Regions from separate parts of the Homo sapiens genome. Here region 2 is linked to region 1. The links come from fine-mapping of genetic effects on gene expression. A gene starts in region 1. The other region holds a variant in brackets. All regions are shown on one strand. Distances are between the middles of the regions. Region 1 holds the start of HEIH (hepatocellular carcinoma up-regulated EZH2-associated long non-coding RNA). Region 2 has its middle 6.6 kb from the start of LINC00847.

The links. PIP is the estimated chance that this variant, and not a neighbour inherited with it, causes the effect.
Region 2: its variant is the best candidate, but not a certain one, in a credible set for the expression of HEIH in whole blood (TOPMed, PIP 0.55).

Annotation. Positions count from the first base shown.
Region 1 is chr5:180,829,293-180,834,667 of GRCh38, reverse strand. HEIH (hepatocellular carcinoma up-regulated EZH2-associated long non-coding RNA) reads left to right here and starts at 3,050. Exons shown (of 1, transcript NR_045680.1): 1 at 3,050-4,714. It overlaps LINC00847 (long intergenic non-protein coding RNA 847), which reads right to left and starts at 3,711. Exons shown (of 3, transcript NR_045679.1): 1 at 3,439-3,711; 2 at 1,808-1,995; 3 at 1-356. It also overlaps a transcript of ZFP62 not described here. RefSeq lists silencers at 2,336-2,505, 2,946-3,075, 3,436-3,485.
Region 2 is chr5:180,821,641-180,827,015 of GRCh38, reverse strand. It overlaps a transcript of ZFP62 not described here. Among named protein-coding and RNA genes, the nearest start is that of LINC00847, 6.6 kb to the left of the region's middle. RefSeq lists a silencer at 2,053-2,347. The variant A/T (reference allele first, on the strand shown) is at 2,455.

The DNA of each region.
Region 1 (5,375 bases):
GGGCTGCTATAGCAAGTTACCATAGACTGGGTGGCTTAAACAACACACATTTCTTTCTTACTGTTCTGAAGGCTGGCAAGTCCAAGATCAAGGTGCAGGCACATCTGGTGTCTGATGAGGGTCCACCCGCTTTCTGATTTGCTGAGGACAGTCTTCTTGTGGTATTCTCACATGGCAGAGAGCAAGCTCTTGTGTCTCTTTTTATAAGGCCACTGCGATGGTCTGAATGTGTCTCCCAACATTCATGTGTTAGAAACTTGGTCCCCACCAGCTATATGGAGGCTGAGGTGGGAGGATCGCTTGAGCCCAGGAGTTTGAGGCTGCAGTGATCTATGATCATGCCACTATACTCCAGCCTAGGCAACAGAACAAGGCCCCATCAATCAGTCAGTCAATACATAAATAAGTCTTTCCATCTATCCCTAATGCAACAGCTGTGAGAGAACAAACATCTGTTCTATATAAATTACCCAGTCTCGGGTATTCTATTATAGCAGCACAAAATGGACTAAGACAGCCACTAATCCCACTCATGAGGGCCCTACCATCATGGCCTAATTAGTTACTTCCCAAAGTTCCCACTTCCTGTTACCATCACAAAGGGGTTAGGATCTCAGCATAGAAACTTTGGGGGCAGACGAGCATTCAGTCCATAACATGGAGTGTCTTAGCTTGGGTTGCTATAACAAATACCATGCCAGCTGGGCGCAGTGGCTCACGCCTGTAATCCCAGCACTTTGGGAGGCCGAGGCGGGCGGATCATGAGGTCAGGAGATCGAGACCATCCTGGCTAACACGGTGAAACCCCATCTCTATTAAAAATACAAAACTTAGCCAGGTGTGGTGGCGCATACCTGTAATCCCAGCTACTCAGGAGGCTGAGGCAGGAGAATCGCTTGAACCCGGGAGGCAGAGGTTGCAGTGAGCCGAGATCGTGCCACTGCGCTCCAGCCTGGGCAATAGAGCGAGACTCCATCTCAAAAAAAAAAAAAAAATACCGTGTCATAGAGTGGTGGAGAAATTTATTTCTCAGTTCTGGGGGTTAGAAGTCTGAGATCGTGGTGCCAGCATGGTCACGTTATGGTGAGGGTCATCTTACAAGTTGCAGATGGCTGCCCTCTTACTGTATCCTCATATGGCAGAAAATCAGCAAGCTAGCTCTCTGTTCTCTTTTTTTTTTTTTTTTTTTGAGACAGAGTTTCACCGTATCGCCCAGGCTGGAGTGCAGTGGCGCAGTCTCAGCTCACTGAAAGCTCTGCCTCCCAGGTTTACACCATTCTCCTGCCTCAGCCTCCTGAGTAGCTGGGACTACAGGCACCCGCTGCCACACCTGGTTAATTTTTTGTATTTTAGTGGAGATGGGGTTTCACCGTGTTAGCCAGGATGGTCTCGATCTCTTGACCTCGTGATCCGCCCACCTCAGCCTCCCAAAGTGCTGGGATTACAGGTGTGAGCCATCTCTGTTCTCTTAGGCAGTCATTCCATTCATGAGGGCTCCACTCTCATGACCTAATTACCTCCCAAAGGCCCCACCTCCAAATAGAGAAATAGATTTCAACATTAATTTTGGGGTGACAGTCCATTCGTAACGGAATGAACCAGGAGACTGCTGACCAGAACATGGAAAGTGCAGCCTTGTAAACAGTCCGTGTGCTCAAGCCTGGCTGACTGTCAGACACAACAACCAAACCCTCACCTTGACCCCCACCCCCAGCCACACTGGAACCTGAACTGAGAGGCCACCCTTTCCCTGCAGGACCAGCTCCTAGAACAGCGGTTCTCAAACTTGAGCAAGTGTCAGAATCACCTGAAGGGCTTTGTTAAAACACAGGCTGCTGGGCCCCAGAGTTTCTGATGCAGGAAGTCTGGGTGGCTGAGAATTTGCATGGTTACAAGTTCCTGGGTGATGCAGATTCTGTGTGTCTGGAGGTAACATTTTGAGAACTGCTGTTTCAGAAGTTCTCCACATTAAAGTCTACCAGTCCTGACTGGTACCTAAGGGGTCATGAGGTAGTCAGTGCACAAGATAGAAAGTGAAAACACTGTCTTAGAATTTAAAACAATACTTCCTAACACCAATAGGTAGCTTTTGATAAAGGAATTATCAAGCATGGCTGTATTCATTTCTTATTGCTGCTGTAACAGATTACTACAATTTGGTGGCTTAAAACAATGTAAATTTATTATCCTAGAGTTTTGGAAATCAGAAATGGAAGCCCAGGCGCAGTGGCTCATGCCTGTAATCTCAGAACTTTGGGAGACCAAGGCAGGAGGACTGCTGGGGCACAGGAGTTTCAGACCAGCCTGGGCAACATAGTGAAACCCCATCTCTACAAAAAATGCAAAAATTAGCCAGGCATGCTGGTGCACCCCTGTAGTCCCGGCTACCTGGGAGGCTGAGGTGGAAGGTTCACTTGAGTCCAGGAAGGTTGAGGCTGCAGTGAGCCATGATTACGCCACTGCACTCCAGCCTGGGTGACAGAACAGACTGTCTCAAAGAAAAAAAGAAATTAGAAGTGAATCTCACTGGGCTAAAATCAAGGAGCCAGCAAGAGTTGTGTTTTTTGTTTTTTGTTTTGAGATGGAGTCTCGCTCTTGTCACCCAGGCTGGAGTGCAATGGTGCGATCTCAGCTCACTGCAACGTCTGCCTCCCAGGTTCAAGCGATTCTGGGGAGGGGAGGAGGAGGGAAGCAAGGAGAGAGGAACGCAGGGAGCAGAGCCTGACCTGGTCACAGGGGTCTGGGAAAGACAGAGGCTTTGTTAGAGCCGGCAGCTGAGGGCCGAGGCCGAGCAGGGGTTAGGCCAGCACAGGACGAAAAGGAAGAAAGTTCCAGGTGGAGTCTGGTGGAGAAAGACCGACCTGGAAGGCACCAGCATGTGCACGTGGCAACTGAGGTCGAGGACGTGCCTGAGAGAGAGGAGGAAGGTGCCCTGCGGACCGGGTAGGGTGCGGAGGTCGGGAATGGAGAACGGTCGTTGGGCAGGTCCGGGTACCCGTAGCCAGAACCACCCGGGTGTGCGCAGCTCGGCCAGGCCCCGCCTCCCGGCGTCCCCGCCCCCTGCTGGGCCTCTCTCCGCAGCCGCGAGACCCGCGCTTGGCGCATAGGCCGGTTCTAATTTACAAGAACACCGCGGCCTGAGGCCGGAGAGTCCCTTCAACCCGGGAGGCGGCGGCTGCAGGGAGCCGAGACGGCGCCATTGCCCTCCAGCCTGGGCAAAAAGAGCGAAACTCCGTCTCAAAAAAAAAAAAACATGGCCGAAACCAGGAAGCTGCGCGATGGCGCCACGGCCCCTCTTCTCCCGGCCTGTGTCCGGAAGGTTTCCCTCCGAGGCGCCCCGGCTCCCGCAAGCGGAGGAGAGGGCGGGACGTGCCGGGGCCGGAGCTCAGAGGCCCTGGGGCCGCTCTGCTCTCCCGCCATCGCAAGGGCGGCGCTGACCTGAGGCCTCCCCGCAAAGGTCCCCGAGGCGGCGGCGGCGGCGGGCTGTGAGAACCGCAGAAGAACGCTGGGCGCGCAGCGACCCGTCCACCCCCGCGAGGAGAGACTTCCACAGAGGCAGCGTTTCCACAGCCCAAAGCCACGTTTCTAGGGTGATGCAGCCCCAGTAAGTTCCTGGCGGGGAAGCTCACGGCTGTCAAAAGAACTCTTCGCTCCAGCCGGCGCACGAAGGGGAGGAGGGCAGGAGGCTGCCGCCCGCACAGGTCATCTGATCACGTCGCCCGCCCTAGTCTGCTTTTGTGAATCTCCACTTTGTTCAACCCCCACCCGCCGTCTCTCCCTCCCTGCGCCTTCCCTCTAACCTTAAAGACCCAGCTACCTCTACGCAAATGGTAGCTACCTCTGCGCAGGTGGAAGTTGAGTTCGGTTCACGCGGGACCCTCTTCCCTGTGGCAAGCTGCTGAAGGAGACCTGCTGTTACTGCTTTAGCTGCTGTTCTGCTTAATCTCAGACAGCTGGAAGGTAGTATTCCGCCCTCGCCCAGCCACCCGAGTAAATGAGAATGATGACTGACTGAGACCCTGATGGTGGTGGCTTAGGCTTAATCTCAGACAGCTGGAAGGTAGTATTCCGCCCTCACCCAGCCACCCGAGTAAATGAGAATGATGACTGACTGAGACCCTGATGGTGGTGGCTTAGGCAAGATGAACGTCTGAAATGGAGGCCCAGGGCTGCCACGATGGCTCTGTAGTCATCAGGGAGGGAGCTCCTTTTATCTTGTTACCTACTCCCCTCTTGTGCCCCTTTCTTCCCTTGATCTAAGAAGGTTGCTCCGGATCTCGCCATCTGGCCTGCGTTCAATCAGCAGAAGCTTCCTGGAGGAGCAGGAGGAGGCACTGTGCTCGCATCACATACCAGTGGCCAGAAGTTGGCTTCAGGGAAGCTCAGGAAATAGGATGCGAGAAGCCATGAGACCTCCCCAAACTCTGCAGTAACAGAGTCAACAAGACAATGGCTTAAAGATGGAGAGACCAGTTGATCGGTCACACAAGCTGTTCCACGATAATTCTTGTGTCAGAAGGGGAGGCTGACTACCAGGACCACTGGCCCCACTTCCAGCCCCTCCATTCTGAGTACACTTCAGAGGGCTCTGGCAGGGTGAGGGGGTCTTGGTGGTGCCACAGAGAGTAAAGGTCTAGCACACCCATTGTGGAGATATTTCATGGGGACAACCCAGTGACTTCACTTGAAGTAAAGTGGGATTTTCCAACCTTGAGATTCTTATTTTCTTTGGTATGCGTGTGGAAGAAGTATGAAGGTGGGGGTTGGGAGGGAGAGCAAATGAGCTGTGTGTATGAGGAGCTGGGGCCTGGCTCTTGACAATATCACCCACCCCCACCCCAGGCTTTCCTTGGGGCAGAAAGACTATGGCCGGGGCTTTCAGTGTCGGCTCCGAGGTATAGAGGTATAACCAGTGCTTTTGGCTAAGTCACGTCACTGATGAGCTTCTCTTTCCACCTTGGCAAACCAATTCTTCTGTAAAATGGTCTTCAAAGTTTCTTTTTTAAAGCAGAGAAACTTATTTTTCAGATAAAAATTTAGATAGAACTATCGGGGGAACCCGATAGGGGCCAGATATCGGGGGAACCCACCCCCAATATTTCAACATAGGTTCTTTCTATTTTCCATAAATGTTGGCCGGCTGAGAAATAAAGAGTACAAAGAGCGGAATTTTACAGCTGGGCCACCGGGGGTGACATCACATATTGGTAGGACCGTGATGCTCACCTGAGCCGTAAAACCAGCAGGTTTTTATTAAGGATTTCAAAAGGGGAGGGAGTGTACGAACAGGGAGTAGGAACAAAGATCATATGCTTCAAAGGGCAAAAGGCAGAACAAAGATCACATGCTTCTGAGGAAACAGGACAAAGGGCAAA
Region 2 (5,375 bases), 7.7 kb after region 1:
TCTACATTACCTACACCAAGCCTTCCCCAGCACTCAATTTATGGAAGACCATTTCTCTTCTCATGACACATGTCCTCATGTTGCTTTGGCCTGTTTTAAAGCTTTCTCAACTCCATCTCAATAAAGAAATCTGCAGCTTTGTTGGATGAGAGGATCTAAAAAGTTCGTTCTTCCAATCGGTTGTAAATATAGACACTAATTTATAAACTGACACAGGAACACACAGCAAATTAGTAGAAAATCCGATTCCTGTTCCCTTTTCTCCTTGCATTGTTTCCTGCCAATGCTCACCATTTCTTTATCCTTTCCACTCTTCCTTGCTCCTCCTTCCCTTTAATTTTTCTCTGTTGTGCCTAAATAAGCTGTCCATGCATGGCACTCCATGGGCTCTGATAACAGACTCAACAAGACAATGACTTAAAGATGGAGTGACCAGCTGATCAGTCACACAAGTTGTTCCAGTGTAATTATTTTCACAGGTGTCTCAGTTTGGATGATAAATTATATGAACACTCTACTTACAGAACAAAGACCTTTATTTATGTCTCTCTTGCTTCAAAGTCCAAGGTGAGCATGCCTGCCTGGCAGCTCTGCCTCAATTCCTTTTAAATCATTCCTTTGTCATACTTCAGCACACTGCTGTCATCTGTATGGTTGAGCTGGACTGCTGCCATGTTGAGTCACCAGTGACTTTTTGATTCTTTAATTCCCAGTTTGACTGGCATTCCTCTGTGTGTGTGTATTTAGTTCTATGCAGTTTTATCACATGTGTAGGCTTGTGTAACCACTGCCACAGCCAAGATACAGAACAGCCAAGTTTGTTTTTGTTCACTGTCATCTCTCCAAAACCTAGTGCAATGCCTGGCAAAAAGACACTCAGTACATACTTGTTGATGGGGGAATGAATGAATGAATGGTGTGCTAATTGGGGTTTTAAGATGCAAAACCCAAGCAGTGTAAGTGAGGTACATGTGGCGGTCTAGAGGTAGGACCAGCAGGATAGCTGTGCCGTCTATCTCTGGGCCAGGCAACTGCTGCAGTCCTACCATGTCCCCAGCAGATGGGCAGGGGAAAGGCAGGGCCCAGTCTTTACAGGGGCAGGTCCTGGAGTTGCACACCTCACTTCCCCTCATATCCTACAGGCCAGAACTTAGGTGCAGGTACACACCAAGCTGCATAGGAGGCCGAGGTAGATGGTATTACTTGCCTGCAATTCTTCCTTCCCTCTTTTCTCTTACTAATGTTCACCAAAGTGGAGAGTACTTTTCCACAACTCATGCAGGGCTTTGGCCAATGGAATGTGGGCAGAAGCGAGTTTGTTAGTTCTGAGCTGAGGCCTTAGGAGGCCTCTTGTGTCTCTGCTCGTCCTCTGGCCCTGTTGCCACCCCAGGTGGTCACTGGTCCAGAGGATGAGAGACAAGTGAAGCAGCCCTGACTCGGCTCACAGCTTGAAGCAGAGCGGCCTCCACCAGCCTGCAAGAAAAATAAATGACTTTTTTGATAAGCCACTGAGAGTTTGAGGTTGCCTACCGTGAGCTCAGCCTTAACTGAGTGAGTTCTACTAGTAACGAAGGGGAGAATGAACATTTGTGGACTTCGAGCATTCTGCAGTATGAGAGGGGCCCCTCTCTGGATGGAGCAGGGAAGACCTGACCTGTAGGGACTCCTTAGGGGTCCAGAGCAAAGCCCAGGCGGCTTAGTTAGACGGCATGCTCTCCTGGGACTCTCATGGGCAGACAGACTGGAGATCAGCTGAACTGGGGCCAGCTGGAAACACCTCTGTCTGGAGACATCTTGGGGATAAAGGGAAGTTTGGGGTGGGAAGAATGATAATGGAAAGCTGCGTCCAAACAAATAAAACTGTCGCATTAACAAGTTGAAGAAGAGTTTTCCCAGTGAGTCGAGAACTGGTGCTAATAATAGAAGCCTCAAACAGCTGTGCATTTTGCCATATTAAATAGTTCATTTGTGTCTGTCTGTTGCCAGCACAGCTGTAGAGAATGATGCTGCTCCAGTTTGATCCAATACAGTATTTGGAATGCATGGAAAAGATCACTGATGCCTTTACCTGATGCCTTACCTCTGAAGGATATTTCTCCACATAATCGGCCCTCGGTTTTGTGCTGAATGCAGCTGTTGAAGGAAGCAGCTCTCTGTATTACTTGCTGATTATCCTGCCAACAGGAATTTGGGTGTGCGGAAATGGCATCAAATTCTTTCCACTGGGAAAGTGCTAGCAACAAACAAGAGGTTAAAAAGCTTTTGAAAGCACAGCAATTTGGGTGTGAATATCCATTCTGAGGTGGATGAATTAGTTCCTGATAAAGTATTGGCTGCTTATTTGAAACTGGTTGAGGAAAAGAAAACATGGCTTTAAAAAGCTCTTCAAATACAAATATATCCTCAATTTTATCTGCTTTTTACTGATATTTATCTGTCTGCCTTCTATTATGA[A/T]AATTTTCAACACTGAAAAATGTCAAAAGAAACCACAAATGCTTTTCATCTAGATTCAATGGTTGTTAACGTTTTACCATATTTGGTTTTTCTCCTCTCTCTGTCTCCCCACAAACACATGATACACACCATTTTTGAAAATAAGTTGTCAGTATGGCATCATGATCCGTAAGTGCTTCAATATGAATCTCCTAAGAATAAAGAAAATCTCCTGTATAACCGCAATACCACTATCATACCTAGGAAACTTAACAATGATTCTACAATCACAACTAATATCCAAGTCATTTTAAAATTTTTGCAATTGTACCTTAAATGTTTGTATGCAGTTTCCCCCGAGAGCTAATCAAGGCTTATGGATTCCATCTGGAGGCTAATCTGGAAAATCTCCCCCACCTTAACTTCTGTTTGGTTTTGATTTACGACATTGACTTGAGGAATCTGGGCCAGCTGTCTTAGAGAAGGTCACACATCCCTGGCTTGCCCGATTGTTTCCTGATGGTGTCCTTTAACTTTTACTTTTAAGCCCTTATAATGGAAGTTAGGTTTTAGGTTTGAATAAACTTTTTTCTTTTATTTATTTATTTATTTGGCTATAAAGAATACTTTACAGGTATTCCATGAGGAGGTCCTCACACTGGGTTTTTGCCAGCAGCGATGCTCAGGGGGATGACCTGTTGAGAAAGTAATTATTATATGTCCATGAGAAGGTACCTTTGCCTGGAACATCAACTGAGGCAAAGTTTACATGCTATTGCTTTGCAGGGTGGGGGTGCAATGCTGTGAAAGGGGAAAAATGAATTGAGGGGGAAACTACAAGATGGTCTGCTGCTGAATTAGCCACTGCTTGATAAACAGCACAGCTGGCCGCTTGGCTATGTGAGACATCTTTGGAGGTGCTGTGTAGCTCCGTTGCACCTCAGAGGAGTCCTACAAGGCAAAGCTCACGTGGTGGTAAAGCACTTGTACTTCAGGATTGTGTTGCTAGCTGCCTCGACACAGCCACTGGGAAAGCCAGTTCACCCGGGGCTCCTGCTGGACCTGGGCACAGGAGTTGCTGCAGCTCCTGCCCTGGCAGGTGGAATGACATGGCCTTGCCAAAGACAGCGGTGCCTGTCATTATAGGAGGTAAGGTGACAAGGTGGAAGCTGGAACTTTGCGGCCATCACTGGAGCTGCTTTACCTAGGATCAGGGTAGTGGGTCCCCAGGGGCAGGCAGGGTCAAATGGATGTGCTGGCTGGGTATAAATTGGATCCAACATTTTTTTCCTTTTAAATTACTGAATGATTTGTGGGGTGTACTTTGCCCCTGTAGGAATATTCTATTGCCCTGCCACGTTTATGTAATGGTTTCAGTATCCATTGATTATTCTTGCCTGTACCATTTATTACAGCAGGAGATGCAAGATATGAGGGTTAGTTATGTTCGTTACCACTAGGGTGTCATCGTACGCTTTTTCAGGAACACAACTAGGATGCTTTATTTACATATGTAATGAATATATATATAATAAAAATATATATATAATGAAATAGTATGAGTTTGTATTGCTATTGAAATTTAACATAAGTGTTTACATTATTTTTTTATATTTTATCTTTTTCCTCTTATACAGAAAAATTCCTAGTTCCTAATAATATTGATATATAGATATAGTCAGAGTAATATGTTCAAGTTACCCAAATTAACCTTTTTGTTTATTGTTGGTTTGGATCAATTTTATATAGAGTTGGTCATTTATTTCTCTTAAGGTACAATTTTAAGGCATTTTCCTTTATAAATTACTTTTATTTCTGAATATATAGAGAATAAATGGTTCAAAAATCAACATTGTGTAAAAACATTTGATCAGAGAAGTCTCACGCCTGTGCACATCCCCACCACCCTGCCCCAGTCTCCCTACAAGGATAGGTCATCAAGTTGATTCGTTTCTGGTTTTTCCTCTCCTGTGTTTCTTTTTGCAAACATGAGCAAGTACATATATACATTTTAATTTATCCTTCTTTCTTACACAAAATGTGGCGCACTATACACTCTGTTCTGTCTTGCTTCTCTCTCTTAATAATGTATGTTCAAGGCATCATTCCACATTGGTTCACAGACACCTTAAATACCAATTTTTTTTTTTTAGATGGAGTCTTGCTGTGTTGCCCAGGCTGGAGTGCAGTGGCACGATCTCGGTTCACTACAACCTCCACCTCCTGGGTTCAAGCAATTCTCCTGCCTCAGCTTCCCGAGTAGCTGGGATTACAGGTGCCCACCACCATGCCCGACTCATTTTTTGTATTTTTAGTAGAGACGGGGTTTCACCATGTTGGTCAGGCTGGTCTTGAACACCCACCTCAGGTGATCTGCCCGCCTCGGCCTCCCAAAGTGCTGGGATTACAGGTAAGAGCCACTGCGCCCGGCTTTCAATACCAAAATTTATCAATTGTTTATCATATGTCCAATGTATTAGGGTAAGCTAGACAATGCTCCCGTAGCACAAAAAAAAAAAAAAAACAAACCTCAAATTTCAGTGGCTTTACAAATAAAAGGCCGATCGCTTGCTCACATAAGGTCCTTTGTGGATTGGACAACCCTCCTCTATCTTGTAATTGCATCACCTACAACATGTATCTATATGGTGGCTTATTGGCTAGAGCCGTCACATGGACTCAAACTGGTGGCAAATGTAGTGTTATGTTCATGAAGAGGAAACTGAGAGGGGATTTGGTGGGTACTACTAGCACTATCTCAGCCACGCAAGGCTTTATATAGGCCTCACAACAGCTCTGTAAAGTAGATAATCTGATTGTTCCCATTTTACAGCTAAGCACATTGAGGCTCCAAGTATTCATATGCCTTTCAGAGTCATAGTGTTCCTGTATAACAGGGTTCATTTCAAATGTAGGTTTCTCTGCCTTTAAAGCCTGTACTT